Linked DNA regions of Homo sapiens: region 2 is linked to region 1. Evidence: fine-mapped expression QTL. Tissue or cell type: whole blood. Region 1 holds a variant in brackets; the other region holds the start of a gene. All regions are shown on one strand. Distances are between the middles of the regions.

Region 1 (8,108 bases):
TTTGGCCACAGTCCCTGAGAAGCAGTCCCTCTTCTACCATCATGGCTCTCACCTGCTTCCTGGAATACTGTCCTCTTCCCATGCACCTTCAGGCCAAAGGATGCTGTATTAGTTTGCTAGAGCTGCCATAACAAAGTACCACAAACTAGCATTATAGAATTAAGAAGACTGAGATCAAGATGTCATCCGGGCTGGGTGCAGGGGCTCATGCCTGCAGTTCCAGCTACTTGGGAGGTTGAGGCAGGAGAATGGCTTGAGTGCAGGAGCTCAAGGCTGCAGTGAGCTATGATTGTACCATTGCACTCCAGTCTGGCCATGAGTGAGACCCTGTCTAAAAAAAAAAAAAAAAAAAAAAATTGTGGGAGGGAGCTGGCAGGTTGGTTCCTTCTGACAGCTGTGAGGGTGAATGTGTCCCATGCCACTCTCCTAGTGGCTTCCTGACAATCTTTTGTGTTCCTTGGCATACCAGACGCACCACCCTGATCTCTGCCTTTGTGTTCGCATGGCAGTATCCCTGTGTATGTGTATCTCTATGTATCCAAATTTTCCTTTTTTATAAGGACATCAGTCATATTGGATTAGTATCCACCCTATGATCTCATTTTAAAGTGATTACCTCTGTAAAAAGGATCTATCTCCAAATAAAGTCACATTCCAAGATATTGGGGCTTAGGACTCCAATATGTCTTTTTTGGGAGGACACAATTCAACCCATAAAGATGCTAACAGCATCCACTATTGCTAGTCCACTGGTGCTCCACCATTTCTTGCAGATTCTTAGGTTTTCCCACATATCTATACATAGTCCCTTCATTAAAATCCCTTAGGTAAAATTCTTTTAGTATTCCAGGTTTTCTCTGGGACTTTGATACATGCATTTTGAGAGCTATTTAATAAATGTCGTTGATAGGACTTAGTGATGGGTTGCATGGATGGTAAGTGAAGTGAGGGGAAGGGAGGTATCAAGTGTAATTTCCAGGTGTCTGTCTTGTGTCATTAGTGCAAGTAGTGCCTTTCACTGAGATCAGGCATGCAGAGAAGAACTGGATTGGGGAATGCAAAGGAGATAATGAGTTTTTGTCAGAACATATAAAGAATATATAGGTCAGGCATGATGGCTCACACCTATAATCCCAACACTTTGGGAGGCCAAGACAGGAGAATTGCTTGAGGCCAGGAGTCAGAGACCAGCCTGGGCAACATAGGGAGACTTTGTCTCTACAAAAAATTTTGAAAGGAAGACATTAGCTGGGCATGGTGGCATGAGCATCTAGTCCCAGCTACTCAGAAAGCTCAGGTGGGAGAACTGCTTGAACCCAGGAGGTCAAAGTAACAGTGAGCTACAATCATGACACTGCACTCTGGCCTGGGAAACAGAGTGAGACTGTGTCTCAAAGCAAATCAAAACAACAACAAAAAAGAATATACAATCATCCTTCGATATACATGAGGGATTCTTTTCAGGACCATTGCTACATTCTCAAGTCCCACAGTTGACCCCGCAGAACCCACATATAGGAAAAGTCAGCCCACTGTATACACAGGTTGCACATCCCTTGAATACTGTATTTTCAATCTGCAGTTGATGGAAAAAAATATAAGTGGACCTGCACAATTCAAACCCGTGTTGTTCAAGGAACAACTGTATAAGCCACACATGCACCAAAAAAAAAAAAATCTGTGCATTATAGTATTTATATACTCTAGACAGAGTCAGACAGCATGAATTTAAATCCTGGGGCTGCCAATTACTAGTTGAGCCACTTAGGACAAACGACTTAGATTTTCATTCCTTATTGTGTTCATTTTCATGTATAAAATGAACATTATAATACCTGCCTCATAGTGTTGCTGCGAGGCTTGATGGGCTGAACCACACAAAGCACTCAGCAAAGTGTCTGGAATTTACTACAGGAACAATAAATATTAGCTGTAGCCAAGATTACTTTTACATACCTACTTTCCATCTGGAGAAAATATCACCAACAATAAAGGTTTTGAAACTAGCTACCTAAATATGGTCTAATTCCTGTTTTCCACTGTAAATTTAAAATTCTTGTCAGTACAGTGCAGGATGGAAATAAGGTTGCTGGCAGGCTTGTACTTCTAAGACTTTCTCTTTTCTATTTGGTTTTGAACTCAGTAAGCCTATTTAAAACAGTTTCTAACCTTGATGCTGGAAATCAGTTGGAGATGTGGATAGATTTCAAAGCAATGTAGACATTTTGGGATGTCAAGGGGCTCTGGAAAATAATGTAGTCTGACCTCGAATTTTTGATGATGAAATTAAGACCCAAGAGGTTAAATGACTCATTTGAGGCCACACAAGCACAGGAAGAGCTGGGACTAAAATCCAGCCTCATGACACATACACTGGCCATTTCTTCTTCAGCATGACAGATTCTAGCATGACAGTGCAAAAAAATATTTATTGCACAGAATTTCAAATGTATATAATGAACTGAATCCCTCTGTAAAGATAAATACAAGATAGAATTAGGAATGAGAGACCGAAGCAAGAGTTCAAAAAATTAGTGTTGTTATAAATTTACTAAAATGATTTCTCAAAAAAAAGATGAATTATGATTTAACTAACATTTTAGACTTTTTAAAATGTATGTTTTTAGCAAGGAGTCTGACTACTTCACACATGGGAGTAGAATTTTCTTATATCCATGAACTATGAGCTGCCACTTTTTGAGTTTTCTTTTGAACACTTGACTTTTTTTTTCCTCTGCAACAGTCATTTACTTAATGCTGTACTCAAAATTATACATCCCAAAGAGATTCTATTTTGAAGACATCTGACTCAATGAACCAATGGAATGTTGAGGAGATGTTTATATGCCTTTTATAATTAACCCCATTTTTGTGGTTTGAGTTAAAAAGATTTAAACATCACACCTGGACAAATTATGTTGCAGTACTTGCATATAATTGTGTGAAACTAAATCAGTTTTCCGCTTAGCTAGAGGGAAAGACAGATATATGGTTTACTTTTCCATGTCATCTTTTCTGATGTAGGAAAGAGGAGACATAGGAAAAAGATAAACTGCAGGGCAAAATTGGAGGAAAAATTAAAATAACACTTCCCGATATTGAGAGAAAGGGATATAAATTTTTGTACTGAGAAAAGAAAGTATGCTTGGTAGATGTAACATTCAAGAGAAAAGCCAATCTAATAGAACTGGATTATGTTAAAAGGATTCTATTATCTCAAAGACTTGGTATCCATAGCAACTGAAACATTGCTATACTTACTCTTTCCATCCACCACGAGGGAAATAAACAGCCAAAGAGCTAGCTATTTCCTGATACCATTATATCACAGCTAATAAATTACCATCTGCAATGTCTTCACAAACCCTACTGTTGTTTTACTTTTAAAGCAGAACCAAAAAAAAAAAAAAAAGATGAAGAAATAAGAGAATGTAACCAAAACACAAAAATGAACAACCAGCCCACAAGGGAGGGTTGCAACAGTGCATCCAAGGAAGGAAGGAGAGAGTTACTCTCTGAACTTCCCTCAAGGCTGGCTGATGTCTAAGATAGAGAAGCAGTTTCCTGGGCTGCTGCCAAGCTACAAGTCAC[A/C]TACAAAGTCCATGTAGACTTTGTTGCTCTGAAAGGGAGTCCAGATCTAAGTGGGCCAACCTCAGACCCAGGCCCAGATATATACTAAACAGGATGCCCAATCAGTTGCAAATGTGTGCTGTGTGTGTATGTATGTGAGTGGTATTACTAAATCATAACTTTTTCTTTATTCATAAAAAAATGTGCCATATATGTACCAATCACTGTGTAAGGTTCTGAGGATGTTAGATGTGAATGAGACACTCTTAGCTGACAAAAGAGTTCATATCTTGCATAGAATCTAGATGCATCAAGTTTCCAATTGACAGACCTAAAGGTCCATCAACATCACCTATGACAGGCGCATCATTATATGATACCTTTAGGACCCAGTACAGACCCAGTACAGTTTCTTGTAAACAACTGACACATAATAAATGTTGATTACATGTAAGATTTCAAGGGAATTATAAAGATGAAGTTAACACACAACATCGAAAGTGTCTGTAGCAAGGAGGTCTTCAAAACACAGAGCCTTAAATTGTAGTTGAATGAAATGAATGTAATTTTAAAATTGATATAAACATAATTAAAGTTGTCAGAAATAATAAGTAGTAAATCTGGCATTTGAATCCATACAGTCTGGCTCTGGAGATTTTCGTGCTTAACCACTACATTTCTCCTCCTCTTAGAGAGCAAAGCCGAATGGGAAGGGGGACAGATGTTAAATTCTTTCTATAGCTACAGTGATTTTTTTTTAAGGAAAACCAATCCAAAAGTACAAACTGTAAATCTTTAGAAGCCAAACATACAGTTTGAACTGCATCTATTCATTCATTCATTTATTCAACAAATATTCATTGTGCTTCTCTGGACCAGTGCTCCTCTGGGTACCAGGGTTGGCACAGATAAAAACACAGTAAGCCAATATTCTCATGGTCTATTTTCTCCATAAAACTAGCCACTTTCAAACACACATTACAATCTATTTATTTATTATGTTTATTGATTGTTGTCTGTTTTCCCTTAACAGAATGCATCTTCCATGAGGATATACAATTTTGTGTTTTGGTCTCTAAGGTACCCCAAGCACATAGAACAGTGCTTGGAGCACTTCAGGGTTTTGATAAACATTTGTTGAATAAATGAATCATGGAGCTTACTTTTTATTGGAGGACAACATAAGTTTTTAAAATGAAATAATATCCAGGAATATATGCAGGGTAAAATCATAAATTTTCTATGCCTTCTTTCTCTAAATACAACAGTGATAATTCTTAATTACCACTGGACCTTACAAGGACACTATAAGTTTTAAGCAGGATGTGCAAATGCTTTGGAACCCTGGGAAGACTGTGGACACTTAAATAAATATAAGAAAGCTTTATAATCTCTGTTTCTGAATTTCTTCTATTTCAATATATTAAGGAGGTAAATCTGCATGTATATTTATCATTTTCAGTGTGACTTCAGCATTTCAATAAAGGTCACAGGTAACCCAGTGATGAAGCATCCTTCCCTCACTGCCTCTGAAAAGCCCACACTGGCCAATATTTTCCTAGGTTTTAGTACCGCATTATTTTACATATTTTATTCATCTGTTTCTCTTCCCTTTCTCATCAACCCTTTCATTTATGTTTAAACAACTCTATTTAGATATAACTCACAAACCATACAATTCACTCATTTAAAGTCTACACTTCAATGGTTTTTAGTATATTCACAGATATGTGCGACCTTCACCACAGTCAATTTTATGACATTTTTATCACATCAACAAGAAACTCCAAATGGTTACAGTCTCTAGATACCACCCTCATATCCACCCATTCCCTCTTCAGCCTTAAGCAAACACTAATCCAATTTCTGTTTCCATAGATTTCTGTATTCTGGGCTTTCATATGAATGGAATCAACTGACGTGGTCTTTTGTAAGTGGCTTCTTTCACTTGGCATGTTTTCAAGGTTTATCCAAATTATAGCAGGTGTTAGTACTCCATTGTATTGGCTGAAATAATATTCCATTGTATGAATATACCACATTTTGTTTATTCATTTACTGATAGACATTTGAGTTATTTCCACCTCTGGGCTATTATGAATAATGCTGCTATGCACATTTGTGTTTAAGTTTTTGCATGGACATATGTTTTCTTTTCTCTTATATACCTAGGATTAGAATTGCTGGGGCATATGGTAACTCTATGTTTAATTATGTCAGGAACTGCCAGACTGTTTTCCACAGCAGTGGAACCATGTTACATTCCCACTGGTGGTATATGAGGGTTCCAATTTCTCTACATCTTCAGCAACATTTGTTGTCATTATTTAACTTTTTTATTCTAGCCATCCCAGTCAGTGTGAAGTAATATCTCGTTCTGGTTTTAATTTGCATTTCCCTGATGACTAACGATGTAAATCATCTTTTCATGTGCTTACTGGCCATCTGAATATGGTTCTAGAGAAAAGTCTATTAAGACCCTTTGCCCATTTTCTAATCGGGTTATTTTACTTTTACATTGAGTCATAAAGGTTCTTTACATTCTAGATACAGATTCCTTATCAGATGTATGATTTGCAAATATTTTCTCCCATTCTGTGAGTTGTCTTTCACTTTCCTGACAGTGTCCTGCAATGCATAAAATTTTTTAATTTTGATAAAGTCCAATTAATTTATTTTTTCTTTTGTTGTCCTTGGTTTTGGTGCCATATATAAGAATGCTATGTCAAATTCAAGGTCATGAAGATATACTATGTTTTCTTCTAACGATTTTATCATTTTAGCTCTTATATCTAGGTCTTTGATCTATTTTGAGCTGTTTTTTTTTTTATGGCGTTAGGTGAGAGTCCGACTCTATTCCTTCATCTGCAGTTATCCAGTTGTACCAGCACTATTTGTTGAGAAGATTCTTATCTTCCCATTGAAAGGTCATGGCACCCTTGTCATAAATCAGTTGACCATAAGTGTATGCATCTATTTCTGGACTCTCCATTCTATTCTATTGGTCCATATATCTATTGTTTTGCCAGTCTTCATTACCATTGCTTTGTGGTATGTTTTGAGGTTGGGAAGTGTGAGTCCTCCTATTTTATTCTTTTTCAGGATTTTTCTGGCTATGTTTGTTTCCTTGCAATTATACATGAATTTTACAATCAGCTTGTCAATTTCTACAAAAAAAAAAATCCACAGGGCTTCTGATAGGAGTAGTGTTGAATCTGTAGACCAGTTTGTGGAATATTGCCATCTTAACAATATTAAGTTTTCTGATGCATGAATATGGGTTGATTCCCATCTATCTATCTATATAGTTTCCAGGGTATAAATACCACACTTCTTTTGTTAAATTTGTTCCTAAGTATTTTAATATTTTATTCTTTTTAATGCATGGGATTGTTTTCTTTTCCTTTTTTTTTTTCTTTAGAGACAGGGTCTCACTTTGTTGCCCAGGCTGGTCTCGAACTCCTGGGCTCAAGCAATCCTCCTGCCTCAGCCTCCCAAAGTGCTGAGATTACAGGCATGAGCCACCAGACCCAGCCAGTATTGTTTTCTTAGTTTCCATTTGGATCATTCATTGCATGTGTATAAAAATACAACTAATTTGTATCCTGCAAATTTGGTGAACTTGTTCATTAGTTCTAATCATTTTGGGTGGATTTCTTAAGATTTTCTACATACAAGACTATGTTATCTACTAATAGAAATAGTTTTACTTCTTCCTTTCCAATCTGAATGTCCTTTATTTCATTTTCTTGCCTAATTGCCCTGGCTAGAACCTCCAATACAATATTAAATAGAAGTGGTAAGAGTTGACGTTCTCTTGTTCCTGATCTTGGGGAGAAAGTTGCCACTCTTTTATCATTAAGTATAATGTTAGCTATATAATAATGTCAGGTTTTGTAGATGCCCTTCATCAGGTTGAAAAAAATTTCTTCTATTTCTCATTGTTGATAGTTTTTAAATCATGGAATGCTGTTAAATTTTGTCAAATATTCTTTCTGTATTAATTGAGATGATTGTGTGTTTTTTTGTTTTTATTCTATTAATACGTTGTATTACACTACTGTACCAATCTTGCATTCTTGGAATAAATCTCACTTGGTCACGTGTATAATTTATTTTATAAGTTTCTGAATTCTTTTAGTTAATATTTTGTTGAGAACTTTTGCGTCTATATTCATAAGAAATTGGTCTATAGTTTTCTTGGGATGTCTTTTTCTGGTTTGGATATCAGAGCAATACAGGGAACATAAAACAAGGTGGGAAATGTTTCCTCATCTATTTTCTTGAAGAGTTTTGGAGAATTGACATTAATTCTTCTTTAAATCTTAAATGTCTGGTAGAATTGAGCAGTGATGCCATCTGGGTCTGGGCTTTTCTTTGTGGTTTTTTGTTTTTGTTTTTGTTTTTGTTTTCCAAAACTCAATCTCTTCATTCATTATATGTCTATTCAAGCATCTATTTATTTTTGAGTTATTTTCAATAGTTTGAGTCTCTTTAGGAACTTGTCCATTTCATCTCACCTATTTAATTTTTAGGCT
Region 2 (8,108 bases), 270 kb after region 1:
AAGGCTATACAATATGTTAGGAATTATGCTGGATTATTAAATATTAGCAGAACTGAAATCCTCAAGAGAAACCAGATTACCGAAGGTTGTTCTATGCTTGTCTTACATACAACCTCAGCTCATAAACTCAAGGACTGATACAGAAAGAGGGTAATCACTAAAGAACTTGAAATCAAGGAAAAGTATCAACTTATGTCAGAAGAAGGATGTCTAATTTAAGCTATCCAGAACCATATCAAAAGCTGGAAGATATGGTCACACTCTTGCAGAGTTTGAATGGATGTAGTGAATCATGGAATCTTCAAGTCTTTGTTGATAAAAATAACCCTAAATGAATAAAAGTTTTTGAATCTCTGTCCTTTTACCAAGTGACCAACAGTGCTTGTGACGGTAACATATACAGATACTCCTTGACTTATGGTGGGGTTACATAAGTCAAAAATGCATTTAAGGCCAAGCACAGTGGCTCACGCCTGTAATCCCAGCACTTTGGGAGGCCAGGGCGGGTGGATCACTTGAAGTCAGGAGTTTGAGACCAGCCTGGCCAAAATGGTGAAACCCTGTCTCTACTAAAAATACAAAAATTAGCCGGGCATGGTGGTGGGCGCCTATAGTCCCAGCTACTAGGGAGGCTGAGGCAGGAGAATCGCTTGAACCCGGGAGGCAGAGGTTGCAGTGACCCAAGACTGCACCACTGTACTCCAGCCTGGGCAACAGAGTGAGGCACTGACAAAAAAAAAAATTAATACCCTGATAAGCCCAAAAGTAAGGTCAAAAACTTCTAAGTCGAACCATCATAAGACAGGAACCGTCTGTATTGGTATAGTGTAGGCTGATGGAGTTTGGGACCTCAGAGATTAAACTAAAGGAGATTATCTATGAGCCATTGGGAGACATACTTAAGTTTGCCAATAATATGAGGTTTTATACTGGCATGCACGGAGACTTTAGGTGCACATGCAGTGGTGGTTAAGGCTTTACTTTAAACCCAAGTCACTTGGCACAGTGTCTATACTATTGTTACCTGCTTCAATGGTTGGCAGGTTGCCAGTGTTTTATTTTTAGTGACATGGTCTTGCTCTATCACCCAGGCAGAAATGCTATGGCACAATTATAGCTTACTGCAGCCTCAACCTCCTGGATTAAAGCAATCCTCCCATCTCAGCCTCCCAAGTAGCTAGGACTGCAGGAATTCGCCACCATGCCCACTAATTTTTTTTTTTTTTTGAGAGACGGGGGTCTTACTATGTTGCCCAAGCTGGTCTTGAACTCCCCAGCAATCCTCCCACGTTGGCCTCCCAAAGTGCTGGGATTACAGGCATGAGCCACCATGCCTGGCTGCCAGTATTTTATATACTGCTTCCTGAAACACTTGAATAGCAGTTTCGACCCTGTTAACAGGAGAAGGTGGATTGGAGTGGTGGATTGGAGTGCCTTATAAGAGATCTACTAAAAAGAAAAACATCAATAAAGCAGGCACAGGAAATCTATAAATAGAATAGAACAAGACCAAAGGAGGGATTAAGACATGGATCTACATGCCATATGGATCCACTCATTTCCTACAATGATCTGAAAATTTGGCTTTGAGTTTCCTGCCAGCGAAGGCACAGAGTAACAAGAGCACTTAAGACAATGATTCATGCTATCCAGAAGAAATAGGAATATGTGTTTTTCATGGGGGTGGGGGAGGGAGGGAAATTTCCACATATGAACATTTGGTAAGTAATTAGTTTTGGAGGTCTCTAAGCTACCATTATAACTAACAATTATTACCTTTCTTTATATGGCACTGAATACTTTGCAGAGAAATTTCACATAACTTTCTTTACACAAAAATCCTGCGAGGTAAGATTCCAGGATATTATTAAAGCAATAATGTAACCCTTATTCATGCATCTAAGAACCTAGTCTAACTGGAAAGGCAACACAAAAAGTAGAAAATAAGCAGAAAGATCTCTGAGATAGCAAACCAAATGGCAATAAGTGTATGCACAGAAAAGAGCCTCTCACTCAGAACCTATATTCTCTTATTTAACCTGAAATTCTAACAGGGTTCATTTCCTTCCTAAAACTGCAGTGGATTAAAAGTAACAAAACAGAAACTATTACAGAGAAGCACTCTGAAAGCCTCCTAGATGCGTACACAGGAGAGCAGAGGCAAGAACTAAAAACAATCAAAAGAGCAGTTAGTGCAAAAACAGAAAACCCTAAACACTCACTAAGTAGGATAAGCTCAGACTCTCTCCGCCCTGGATCCTGACCCTCCACGAATCAGTTCCTCACAAACCACCTCAGCCATCTTTCAGGAACGGAAATGTGATCCTGCTTGCCTGCTCCCAACTCTTGGCAACCCTTCATTGACTTTCCAGGCTCATAAGACAAAATCATTATTTAAAAACGGTCCACAAAGTCTGCCTGCCTCTCCAGTCTCATCTCACTTCGGCCCCACCTGCTTGGGCCTTTTCACATTTCCTTCCCTTTACCTGGAAGTGTCTCAATGCTGCCTCTCCTGGGGGATCTGAAATGTCATTTCCTTAGAAAGCCTTACCTAGTCCCAGAGTCCACATTAGGTTTTCCCGTGCACCTTAGCGCCTTTGCAGTTGAGAATTTATCACAGTTGCACTTAGTCTGATTGTTTTATTTGTTTGTTTGTTTTTTGAGACACCAAGGCTGGAGTGCAGTAGCGCGATCTCGGCTCACTGCAACCTCCGCCTCCCGGTTCAAGCATTCTCGTGCCTCAGCTTCCCGAGTAGCTAGGATTACAGGCGTGCACCAACACGCCCGGCTAATTTTTGTGTTTTTAGTAGAGACAGGGTTTCGCCATGTTGACCAGGCTGATCTCAAACTTTTGGCCTAAAGTGATCTGCTGGACTCAGCCTCCCAAAGTGCTGGGATTACAGGCGTGAGCCACCGCGCCTGGCCAGTCTGATAGTTGAATACCTATTTCCTTCAGCGTACTGTGAGCTCTGGTGGAAAAGGACCATGTCTGGCTCGTACATATGCCAAATAAGTATTCACCGGAAAAAATATGAGTAATGTCACAGGACAAGCAGACATCTTCCTAGTATATAATTTTAAATTTTACTAAAATCTTTTTGAGAAGGTAGCTATTGTTTTATTAAAGCAAAAAAAAATTACAAAGTACAATGCAAAATTCATATGAATTTTAAAGCTAAAACAAGACTTTCAGAATGCTTTAGGCTACACCCCCAGACTTCTCTAGAGACGTGCTTAAAATAATATGGAAACACGGTGTGGTAAAAGATCCATTTCCCAAGGGATCTGGATAACCAGCGCTTATCTTCATTTTACTGGAGAATACATGTGCGGAGAGGGCTTTGCAAACTACAAGGCTTTGTGCATTATAACATTATTATGGAAAAATCTGTGTTTCTAAGAGGGGGAATGATTTAGCTATTGCATTGCCAATTACAGGTGGGGCTGGCGCCAGAGCCCAGGCCTCCCGGGGCCTGTCTAGCCCACAGCTTTTCATTAATGCACAGCACTTGCCACCTGGTCCCTGCCGCAAAGGGTGGCCTCTCGAGTTAGGAGCCATATCTAGGGCGGATGGCCTGTGCTAGGCTCAAAGACACTTAAGTTCCGATCAACCAGAACTGAGGAGCGGGTAGGAAAACCAAGCCGAGCCTTCCTCGGCTTCACAATCCGCAGGCTCTCCGCTGTCCCCGGCGGGACTCGGCAGTTCCCCTGGAGGGCTGCAGCCCGGCTGTCTTCGCTCAGGCCCAAGCCCGCGCGGCTCTCCCCCTGGCGGAGAACTCGCAGGACTGCGACGCATTCCGGAGACGCCGTCAATCTCCGAATTTGAAGCGCAGGCGATATCTAAGGGGCCTGGGAAGCGGGAAAGCTCGGGAGTCACTCCGGAGAGAACACCCTGCAGGAGTCGACGCGGCTGCCTGGCTTCGTGGTCCTGCAGCGTGGCCCGTTGCTTCGCGCAGAGGTTGGCCACAGCTGCTGGCTAGGAAACTGGGGACCACCTGGGTTGCCACCGAGGAGGGTGGAGGCCCCCGTCAGTCCCCTCGGGGATGCAGCTGCATTTTCCCCTCCTTGCGTCCGGCCGGGAGCCAGAGGATGGGGCTGTGGAACCCATTCCGAAAGGCAGGGCGGGCCCTTCGGAACCCGGACGCGAGGGAAGGCGAGAGGCGCGGGTGTGCCGCACGCCCACCGGCGCCGGGGCAGGGGCGCTGCAGCCGGCGGCCCACGGAGGACATCAGCGGTGCCGCCGCCGCCGCCGCGGGCTCGCGGGCCGCGCGCGCACGCGAGTGGGCGAGGGAGGCAGGGGCGCTACTAGCAGGCGGCGTGCGCGCGCGCGCTCCCCCGCGCCCTCCCTCGCAGGCCCGCCCGGCCCCAGCGCGCGTCACGAGGGGCCAGCGAGCTAGCTGGAGGGCGGGAGGGAGGGTGGGGAAAGGGGGTGGGGCCGCGAGACCGGAGGGGTCCGAGCAGCGGCTGCGGAGCCGGAGCTGGGCGAGGGCGGCTGCGGTCCCGGCGGCGGCGGCGGCGGCGGCAGCTGCGGCGGGAGAAGATGGTGGCGCTGGAGGCAGCAGCGGCTGGAGCGGAGCTTTATTCCCAGGCTTGGCACCAGCGCTGTCACTAGCGCCGCCTGCTCCCGCGGGCCCGCGGACCCAGCTGTCAGGCAAGGTACCACAGCCAGGGAGGGGTGGGTGAGAAGGGGTGCCCGGCGCTGATGCGGCCCCCGACGGAGCCCGGGTCCTCGCCAAAGGGCGCCCCCGGACGCGAGAGGGGCTGCCTGGAACAATAGTGCGGAGGAGCGGAGGCAGCAGGCGACATCCAGGAGGCAGTGCCTGGAACCATCAGCTAGCGAGGCGGGGGAAGGCGGCGTTGCGAGCGAGACGCCTGGGGTCCGGTGCCCGCTGAGATGCCGGGCTTCGGGCGCAGCAGGCGGGCCTGATGACAGTCATGGCAGGAGTGAGTGTGTGAGAGTGTGTGTGTAAAAGGTACAGCAGAGGGGATGGGGTGGCGGACGGAGGTGTTGGGGGGTGACATTTCCAGGAATCCCCGCTAGGACCCCCTCATCTCTCGGCTGACTCTCCTGGAGAAAGAATGTGATGATGGAAACGGTGAGGTGGGCAGGATGCACTTGGTGTGTGAAGTGTGGAGGGAGGCAGTGGGATAGGGGCCGGTTTGTAAAATCCTGTATATGTGTGTGTACGCGTGTGGTTGCATCCACGTTCCCCAAACTGCGCCCCAAATCCAGAGATCTGCCGCTGCCCTTACTTGATGTCACCGGCTAAGACTGTGGGACAGTGTTTGTTATTTTGACCCTGCAACTCTGAGCACAGTGTCTGTTCTGCTCCTGCGTGTGGATGGCCCAGTGTAGGGATTCTCGCTTCCCCTTCCTCTGGCCTCATGACATGGGGATGTGGAAGTGAGCATGTTGCTTTGAGGCACATGGCAGGGAAATAGGATAACCGTTACACATTCTGGGCTTGCTAATGTACCTGGTTTTGAAGGGGCCTTCCATCCTGTGATACTACTTCTCTCCTTAGCACCTGTTCCATAAGGGTCTTGTACTCCCTGACTGTGCAGTTTCTATTGTTTTTCTCTTGTCTGACCAGAAGGAGAAGGATGTTGAATGATCAGATTCCTCTTCCTGTCCCCACAACTTTCAATGCTAGCTAGACCTTCTCCTTCCACATTTAAGCACTGAAAACCTTATGGCTAGAGGATGGATGGTCTTTGTGTTGGTTCTTTTAGAATGAACTCTGGAGGTGTATACGTATAGAGAGATGCGGTGGGGCGGGGGGCGGTCTTTTAAAAAGAAGAAAAATATCACACGGAGAAATGTTTGGTGCCCACTTGGTCAGCATCACACAGCCAGGGCGTTTTCCTCAGGAAACAGGATACTTTATTTCTACTGCTGGTGACATCCACTCTCCCAGCTGTCACAATAGCTAGGTGGTGCCGTGTATCATTTGGAAACTGAAATCTCCTGAGACCCACAGCGATGGGGTCCCAGGTCAGTAAAGTCCCTGCTTTCCTACCTGATAGAGCCCACTAGTAGGGAATTTGGAAAAATGTCAGGCTGGCAACAACTCACCCAGTGGGAACAAGGACACAGAAATGCATCCAGAGTCTATGGCTGTTTAATTGTCTCTGCGTGGTAAAGATAGGTGTGTGTAGGTAGGGTTGGGTAGAGGTAGGCAGGGAGATGGCATATTCATGTGTATCCAGGGCAGTGTGATTCCCCCTCACCTATGTTTCTCCTGCGGTATTCATAGGAATGAGTGCACTTTACACTTAATATCTCGACACTTCTTTATTAAAATGTTGTATGACTAGCTTAATCTGCTTAGGACATGTTTTAGTCATAACACCTTAAATTCTACTGCATTGTCGGAATCCAAACTGGCTGCCCGGTTCTCTTCGAAAAGCCCGTAGCAGTCATGGCTACACAAGTAAATATACAACATGTTGGCACCAGAGATTTATTTTTCTTTTTTAAAATTTTTGTTTTGCTTTCTTTTATGGGCAAAGATTGCATGATATCGTTGTGAAAATAATAAAACTAGGGCTATCCACATATGCTTTTTTTTCTTCCCATGTATCTTATTTAATGATATATAGACAAGGTGCTCTTGAAGCTGTCTATGTAAAGTAAATTTCCCCATGTTCTTCAAGTCAAGCCTTCTAAGATTTTAATGTGAGGTTGGTTGTTGGCTGTCATCCAAGATTTAAGGATAGATTTATAAAAATGAATTTTGAATCTTAGTTCTTTACTCTCTTATTTGTTATGCCAAATGTCTTTCTGAGAAAAGTACTTAGGGAATTTAAAAGCCATTCTAAGAGATTTTGGTTTAAAAAAAAGTCATCATCCTTTATATTTGCAAGTAAGACCAGGGATGTAAATGTCTCACAAGAAAGTTTAATAATATGAGGAATTACCAGGTAAATACCCTGTTTAGAGAAAGAGGAATTACACAGCAGCAAAATCGATGACTCAGGAATCAGTTCTTTTCTAATGTAAATGTGATCATTTTTATTTTTATTTGTCTTTTTGAGACAGGATCTTCCTCTGTCGCCCAGGCTGGAGTGCAGTAGTGTGATCATAGCTCACTGCAGCCTCAAACTCCTAGCTCAAGCAATCCTCCTGCCTCAGCCTCCTGAGTAGCTGGGACAATAGGCACATGGCACCACACCCAGATATTTGTTTATTTTTTTCAGAGATAGAGTCTCGCTATGCTGCCCAGGCTGATAGTTTTAAAAATGCAATATCTGGCTTTTCTAAAGATCGGACTGGTATAAGGTTAATGAGACAGCTCTAATAAATGGTGGTACCTTTTGCTGTGGCCTGCAGCAAGCCATTTTTTGTGCATGGATGCCTTTCCTTCACTTAAAGTAGCATCAGTGCTTTTCTCTTCCATTATTGAGCCTCTTAAGGTTTTTTGTTGTTGTTGTTTTGTTTTGTTTTGTTGTTATTGTGTTTGTTTGTTTCGGAAGACTTAGGGGTAAGAGATATTTGAAAATTGACCTCTGGGGCCAAAAGGAATTAACTGTAGTACCTTGGGGAGATAGGACTTTTATCCTAGAAAGAAGAAGTAATTGTTGCTAAAATTGAGAGAATTTCAAGCCGTAAAATCTGAAGTTAACTCTCTGGGTTACAATAATTAATTTGCAAACATTTGTTAATTGCCTCCCGCATCTCAGATCCACTGTACCTTTGGATAGGGGACAGGGAATGTTGAGAAGGGTTGGAGGTTCAAAGAATGCTAAGTCTTAGATCCTGGCCAGAGGTGGATCATGATCTAGAAGGAGAAAAGAGGAAATATGTTACTAACTGTAAAAATAGTGAAAAATGATTAAGTGCTGAAAAAGCAGTATTCCTGCAGAGCTGTGGGAGTTCACAGGGTACAAAGTGACTTCTGATGGAAGAATTAGGGAAGGTTACATGGGATATAGCATTTGAGCTGTGATTAAGGTGGCATTTGGGTTGGCAGAGAAGGAAGGGCATGCTTGGGGGAGGAACAGTGTAGCACAGGCCTGGCAGTGGAAGGTGTATGCCTACACAGGAAACAAAAAAATGGTGTGCTTTGGCTGAAGCGCTAGGAATGCCAAGAGATGTAATGAGGGAT

What was found. PIP is the estimated chance that this variant, and not a neighbour inherited with it, causes the effect.
Region 2: it holds the start of APBA1, and the variant in region 1 is fine-mapped to the expression of APBA1 in whole blood (TOPMed, PIP above 0.99).

What each region holds. Positions count from the first base shown.
Region 1 is chr9:69,941,194-69,949,301 of GRCh38, reverse strand. No RefSeq gene overlaps it. Among named protein-coding and RNA genes, the nearest start is that of MAMDC2, 99 kb to the left of the region's middle. The variant A/C (reference allele first, on the strand shown) is at 3,592.
Region 2 is chr9:69,668,701-69,676,808 of GRCh38, reverse strand. It overlaps APBA1 (amyloid beta precursor protein binding family A member 1), which reads left to right and starts at 4,438. Exons shown (of 13, transcript NM_001163.4): 1 at 4,438-4,656. RefSeq lists silencers at 4,361-4,410, 4,591-4,670.